Linked DNA regions of Homo sapiens. The protein of the gene in region 2 purifies or fractionates together with the protein of the main gene of each other region. This does not show direct contact. Each region holds a gene or a part of one and is shown on either strand. Other genes may lie near its edges.

Evidence for each region.
Region 1: the proteins of TBRG1 (region 2) and UBR3 purify together in Homo sapiens (affinity purification with mass spectrometry; one large-scale study listed by BioGRID and IntAct). This does not show direct contact.

The regions. Positions count from the first base shown.
Region 1 is NC_000002.12:169,830,219-169,834,040, forward strand, and holds part of UBR3 (E3 ubiquitin-protein ligase UBR3), read left to right. Parts: intron 1-3,822. UniProt on the Homo sapiens protein: E3 ubiquitin-protein ligase which is a component of the N-end rule pathway. Does not bind to proteins bearing specific N-terminal residues that are destabilizing according to the N-end rule, leading to their ubiquitination and subsequent degradation.
Region 2 is NC_000011.10:124,629,336-124,633,157, reverse strand, and holds part of TBRG1 (transforming growth factor beta regulator 1), read right to left. Parts: intron 2,771-3,822; coding exon 2,673-2,770; intron 2,414-2,672; coding exon 2,303-2,413; intron 1,884-2,302; coding exon 1,741-1,883; intron 1,066-1,740; coding exon 920-1,065; 3' UTR 1-919. UniProt on the Homo sapiens protein: Acts as a growth inhibitor. Can activate p53/TP53, causes G1 arrest and collaborates with CDKN2A to restrict proliferation, but does not require either protein to inhibit DNA synthesis. Redistributes CDKN2A into the nucleoplasm.

The DNA.
Region 1 (3,822 bases), on a different chromosome or scaffold from region 2:
TGGTGTATCTGTCTTTTCCCCACCTGGTCAAGAGAGTCAGTGGGATAAATTCTCAAAAGTGTGATTTCCAAATTGCCCTCCCTAAGGCTTAGTACTAATTACTCTGTGAGACTGCCTGTTTTCCAACAGCCTCATCAACAGAGTAGTAGTAAAATTTTGGACTTTTATCTATTTGGTTAAAAGTGGCCAAATTCTAGCTGTTTTATGTGATTTAACTTATTTATTCTTTGACTCTGAGATTATTACTTTTATTATTCTCATTGTACAGAAGAGGAAAGTAGGGCAGAGTTAAAAACCTTGCTCAAGTTCACACAGGCAGTAAGCTAGGCATGCTGGCTCCAGGGCTCTGGAGCCAGACTAATCAACCATTTCTCTTTACTGCCCCTACTAAATAGCATTCTTACTGGTTTTTCTTTTCAATTCTATGTTTTATCTTTTTTTTTTTCCTTAATATGCTATTCTTATTTGGGCCTTTGTTTCTTTCTTTTTAAACTTTTTTTGTTTGTTTTGTTTTAAAGAGGCACATCAAAACAGGAGTTGGAGCAATCCTTTACTGATATTTAGACATTTTTACTTCTTGGACTGGGTTAGCATTTAGGAAAGCCTCCAGAGAACCTGAAGGTAGGAAATAACACTGATTCTTTCCTGACTTTTGGAATACAGTGGTAATTATCAGGTTGTCGTGGATGAGATGGAAGTCTGATCGCTTGTGATGCTTCAGTGTACTACCAGAAATATGTCAGTGAGTTTCTTTGAAGGTATTCATACAGTTTTAGGGCATCCAGGCTATAGACAGTCAACATCCTAACCTCATGGTATTTGCTTTTACTGGTGTCTCATAGGTAAGTATTATTTTCCCAGTCTGGCAACCCTCTATGAGTTGGTACATTATATATATATATATATATATTTTTTTTTTTTTTTTTTTTTTTTTTTTGAGAGAGAGAGTTTTGCTCTTGTTGCCCAGGCTGGATTGCAGTGGCACGATCTTGGCTCACCGCAACCTCTGCCTCCCGGGTTCAAGTGATTCTCTACCTCAGCCTTCCAAATAGCTGGGATTACAGGGATGCGCCACCACACCCGGCTAATTTTTTTTTTTTCTTGTGTTTTTAGTAAAGACAGGGTTTCTCCATGTTGGTCAGGCTGGTCTTGAACTCCTGACCTTAGGTGATCCACCCGCCTCGGCCTCCCAAAGTGCTGGGATTACAGGCATGAGCCACCACACCCGGCCGGATACATAATATTTAAAGATTTATTATTATCTTTGTCTGAAACCAGAGCTATTGCCTGTATGTGTCAGCAGTTGCCATGTCCAGTTTCATAAAGGGCAAGATTGAACAATAAACAGTATTGTGGCCATGCAATTACTCTGAATTTTTTCTAACTGCTTGGATTGGATAGAGTAATTTTCCTGGGCTATACAGCTAATTTACTGCCTCAAGAGAAATAGGTGATGTTGACCAGCTCTGCAACCTAAAAGACTGCCTCTGGAACCTTTTTAGAACTGGAAATCATCAACAGCTTGTAACAGTGTTCTCATGGGCAAAGCTGGACTACACTGGCATGAACAGAATGTTTGAACTTTTCTAAGTTTTTGGTATTTTAAAAACCCCTTTAGATTGCCAAAGATTGAATGTGTGTTGATTTTGGGGTTTTTATTCTAACTGCCATAAGTTTGTAAATTTCATGGTTTAGTCACTTTTAGAGGAAGGATTCCTTTTTTTCAGCTGTATTTGTGCTCTTAGTAAATGAGAATAAATCTTTCTGTGCCATAATCCTTTTCACCAGTGTCTGACTGTTGCCTGTAGGATGTTCTTGATTGGAGATGGAGAAGAATCTTGAATCTATCACAGCTGTATTTATATTTAATTTTCAAATTAGCAATTATAGAACTGTGGGGAGGATTTAGTTATTTTTGACTGAGTAGTATTGATATAATCAATGTGGCAGTATTAGCAGATATACAAACCAAAGGAAGAAAACAATTGAGGATTCATTTGTGGGATGAAATCACAAAGGCTATGGAAATTGTGTGCTAATAACTGTATGTGGCTGGGCGCGGTGGCTCACGCCTGCAATCCCAGCACTTTGGGAGGCCGAGGTGGGCAGATCACGAAGTCAGGAGATTGAGATCATCCTGGCTAACATGGTGAAACCCCGTCTCTACTAAAAATACAAAAAATTAGTCAGGCGTGGTGGTGGGTGCCTGTAGTCCCAGCTACTCGGGAGGCTGAGGCAGGAGAATGGCGTGAACCCGGGAGGCGGAGCTTGGAGTGAGCTTGGAGTGAGCTTGGAGTGAGATCCCGCCACTGCACTCCAGCCTGGGCGACAGAGCGTGACTCTGTCTCAGGAAAAAAAACAAAAAAACTGTATGTATAACTACAGTTTTGCCACTAGTGAGTAAGTGCAGTCATTGTCAGAAATGCTTTATGGGGGCCGGGCGTGGTGGCTCACACCTGTAATCCCAGCACTTTGGGAGGCCGAGGCAGGCGGATCACCTTAAGTCGGGAGTTCAAGACCAGCCTGACCACATGGAGAAACCCCATCTCTACTAAAAATACAAAATTATCTGGGCATGATGGTGCATGCCTGTAATCCCAGCTACTCTGGAGGCTGAGACAGGAGAATTGCTTGAACCCAGGAGGCGGAGGTTACAGTGAGCCAAGATCATGCCATTGCACTCCAGCCTGGGCAACAAGAGTGAAACTCCATCTGGAAAAAAAAAAAATGCTTTATGGGTGGATGAACTCAAAACAAAATAACCTGTAATGGAAAGTCTAAAATACACTCGTTCCTCAGTATATGGTATACATAGGAGACTGGTTCCAGAATACCCACCTCCCACCCACTCTTCAGGGTATACTGAAATGCTGCTTATATGAAAAGTCTGCCCTTCATGTATGTGAGTGTCAGATCCCATGAATTCTGCATTTTTGATCCATGTTTAGTTAAAAAAATCCTTGTATAAGTGGACCCTTGTAGTTCAAACTAGTGTTGTTCAAGGGTCAACTGTAATGTCTGACTAGCTGGTTTTGGGCTCTGATGGGATACTAACTGGAAACTGGGATTTTAAACATTTAGTTCTCAAATTTTGGTGCAGAGAATGAGGAGTTTCATGTTCTGTCCTATATTACAGATATTTTTGTCTCCTTGCTTGTTCTTCCTCACATATTCTAAGCTCCTTAAAAGATAAGGACCACATTTTGCTATTAGCCAGAGGCCAGCACCTACTAAGTCTCTTGTACTTAGGAGGTGTCAGTAATTTTGAATTAAATTGGATAAAAAAGTGGCTGCTATACCCAAAAAGTTACTGTAAGATTACATTGCTTTAGTTACTCATGAGGTGGCATTGATTATTAAATCCATAGCAGCTTTTTTCAGAGTGCTTTCATTCTTTTTTTAGTTTCAGAAGTAATACACATTGATTATAACATAAAAATAAGTGGATAAAGTAAAAAGTAAAGGTGCCTTTCTCCATCCTACCCCTCAGTAAGAAATTTCCTTTTCTTTTAAGGTTACTTATGTGTTTAAAAGAGATTAGTTATAATTTATCCAGCATTTCTAGATTTTTTTTTTTTTTAGTGACAGGTTCTCGCAGTGTCTCCCAGGCTGGAGTGCAGTGGTGTGATATCACAGCTCACTGCAGCCTCTACCTCCCAGGCTCAAGTGATCTCCCACCTCACCCTCCCAAGTAGCTGTGACTGTAGGCGCACACCACCACACACAGCTAAATTTCTTTTTGTATTTTTTGTAGAGATGGTATTTCACCATGTTGGCCAGGCTGGTCTTGAACTCCTGGCTTCAAGCAGTCTACCTGCCTCA
Region 2 (3,822 bases):
ATTATCTGAGGTGCAATACAAAGGTTAAAGAGGTTAAAGATCCCCTTGAAGGATGTGCAAAATGTGAAGAAAAAGATGAACAGTGTACCTTGGACTGGACTTTCCATCTTGAGTTTAAGCAGAACATTGGATTTTGATGATACTGACATGAAAATTAAGCAGCAGCCTGGGTTGCAGGGGCTGGGACTTGATATTCCTTGAATTAGGATCACAATCAAGAGTAGAAGTTTGTCAGAATCTCCCTATCTCCCTCGTTAGTCAGCTGCTGCTACTACAGACTTAATGTTTATATGTCCCCAAAATTCATGTTAAATCCTAACCCCTAATGTGATGGTATTGGGAGGTGGGGCCTTTGGGAGGTGATTAGGTCATGAGAGCAGACCTCTCATGAACCGGCTTAGTGATCTTATAAAAGGGACCCCGGAGAGCTGCCTTCCTCTTCTACCACGTGAGGACACTGCAGGAAGACAGCTGTCTAAGAACTAGGAAGTGGGCCCTCACCAGACATTGAATCTGCGCTCCTTGAACTTGGACTTCCCAGCATCCAGAACTGTGAGAAATAAATTCATGTTATTTATAAACCAACCTGTCTATGGTATTTGTTGTAGCAGCCTGCAGCTCTCTATCACTCTTGTTTATAAGAGGCTGAAGTTTACTTTACCTCAGGCAGAGCTAAGCAAAAAAGATTACATCCCGATTACAAGATGAAAGTAAACAGAATTGACAAGAGAAATTTATTACTAAAAATAAAGCAGCTGAAGGTTTTCCCAGGGAAAACCATCACCACAGGACCTTCCATGATGAAATACGTTAGTATCTTCTTTACTTCTGAATTGCTGCCTTCTTTCATATACCCAAAATTTTAGTTTAAGTTAAATTAATCACGACAAAAACGATGTGGCATCTGATCCCTTCTTGTTCAATCTGAAGACTGAATTGGGCTACCCTGTGATGGAGACTTCAAGTGCTGCAGGTGAGTATCTACCAAGGGTTCATGTGTCAGGTACATGGGCTGGTAAGAAGACACAAAGGCTGCAGGCTGAAGCTCTGGGAGGTCCAAGGATCCTGGAGAAAACAATTCCTTAAGTTCCACTGCTGCTCGGGAGTCTGGGCAGACTGTTTTGGTCAGACATATACATGTCCTTTCAATCAATTCCTTAACACCCTTGCATTTGTCAGCTCAATTTTGCCTTTGTTAAGATAGGACAGATACTTTTACAATGAAAACTGGTTGAAACATTAAGTGACTTGCCTAGGGTTATATAGTATATTAGGCAAAGAGTGAGAATTTCAATTCCATTTTTTAACCCAGAGTTTTCCCTATATGACCCCAAAGCCTGAACCCTTGATCACTCATTTGTGGGAGGAACTCATGGAACACAGGCAGGGCCAAGGCCTTGACTTGACCCCACTGACTTCACTTGAAATGTTATTCCCTGCACAGTAAACTTTCCCCTGGTGTTCTGCTCCAGTCTTGCTTAGGTTACAGAATGAGATACCTTAGTTTCTGGGGTACCCTGCCTTACTATGATCGCAGGTGCTCCCCATGACATCTGTGAGTAATCTAGGAAGCTATGCAGGCCGCAGGTCCCCCTCTAACTCAGCACTCCGCAAGGCTGATTCAATGAAAGCTTTTATCACTCAATGCATAGATATTTAGGGTACTCGGCTATGTGTGAAGATGGGAAGGTAGCCTAAACACAGTCAATTTTCAAACCAGAAAGGTAAAGTTAAAGATACCTGGCAGAAGGGGATCATTCTGATCTTCATCAAAGATCTGTCTCTGAAAGGCTTCAAAGCTCATAGCTGCATCATTCTCCGGCAGCCCCTCAGGTAGCTGCCCATCTCCAGGTTTGCACACATCAAATTTCACCCACTGGTAACTGCAGAATCAAGGGAAATCACCCTTGAGAGTTATCTGCTAGACATAAATACCCATTCCTATCACTAAAGGGATCAGGTAATTTTTCTTTATATTCCGCCCATATATATCTAAAACACATATTTGCTAACAAAAACCTAAAAGAAATAAGCAGGCCTCTTTAGTGACAAATTAGTCTGCTAGATTTCCCACCCCTTTTGCTGTCATGGTACATACAGAAAATAGTAATAATCAGCGAACAGTGGAGTCCTGGCTCTTGCTTACCTGTCCAGAGGGCTAAGGGGGCCAATACTGAGCCCTACTGGTCGAGAAGCAGGCAGGCTTTGGACACAGAAGGTCAGTGAACAAAGTAGGAACTGCCAGTCCCTGGCCGGATGATCACTGAGCTTTTCTCAAGGGAATGAATTTGATCACACTTACTTGATGCATTTTCGAGCTCCTGGACAGCTCTGGATCAGGTTGTGGATGGCTGGATGAGAAAATCCAAAAAAGTCAGCTCCAGCTGGAAGCAGGTTAGGCATTAGTTTCCCCCTAAACAGGAGAGGGATAATTTTAGTTTGAGAGCTTAGCGGGAGATGAAGATGGATTTAAGAACAGAATAGTGGTATGAACAAACAGGATAAGCTTTCTTGACTTTGATAATGTGGAGGCTCTAGTTGGCACAATGTCAGGAGGATCCAGGATAGGTTTCTATAAAATAAAGTATCTCCACCCATTAAAAGCAAGAGAAAAGGTTTCACTGTACCAACAGTGATCTTTTAGCCTGTTTTCAAGCTTTTGGTCAACTTACATAGTAGTGCTTATAGTCCTGAGCAGTTCTGCATGACAAGCATCTGCAGAAGAGCTGACAATGGCATTCTGGGGGTCATCTTCAGGAACAATTTCAAACTGAGAAAGACAAACGAGCAATGAGATCAATCCTCAAGAAGGAAGGAGAGAGGGGCATACTACTCTGTAAATATTTCTTTACTCTGGAACGTGAAGCTGACGTATACCATCTTCAGAAGGGACACACATACTTTCCTATAGGGCTGCTAAAAATTGAAACAAATCCAAGTACCTAGAGAAAGTCCTTTGACTGTTTCAGTTCTACCCTTCTTGGTTGACAGCTTTCCAAAAGTGAGCGTTTAATTTGTTGTGTACCTTTCCAATCCACTTATTTATATCCTTAAGTACAAATACAAATGGTATTTTAAAAACAAATGAGATCACTCTCCATGTAATCTTTTAAGTCAATTTTACAAGATCTAGGAGAAACAGGCTGACTGCAAACTGCCATTTCATTGTATTTACTTTCATTTTGAACGTTAAAATATCTTGGTTATGTTAATAAAAAGAAACTGTTGCATCGAAATTACACTAATTCTGAGGAATTTTTGCCAAGAAAATATTTTTGTAACAAATGTAACAAGTTAACTAGCTGATTTAATTATTTGGCCAGTTTTCTATAAAGCGCAATGATTTTTTTGCCAGGAAAATATTTCTGTAACAAGTTCTATCTAGCCAATTAAATTATTTGACTAGTTTTAAAGTTCATTTAAACAGTTTCTAGTTCTTCAATGTTTACTTCAGTCAAATTATCCTGAACAGGATTAATTTATTTTCTGTATAATTTTTTAGAATGATATCGAGCACTACTGATTTCTAAAAAAAGTCAAAGCAATTTTTACTGAGTATAGTTTCCACTACTGTTAGTTTTCTTCTGTGGTTATTATTTCACTGGATTCAATTTACCGTGTCAAATTTTAGAGATCTGTCAATTTTGTCAGTAATAAATTCTCTTGTGAGTGGTTTCAATCAATGGTGGTTTTCTTATTTCAACCAATGGCATACCTTGCCAGGTTAAGATTCTAATGTTTTATATTTATTTCTCAGCTAATAAATGAAAAAACCATGAGCAATTAATTTCTTTTCTTTTTTCTTTTTCTTTTTTTTTTGAG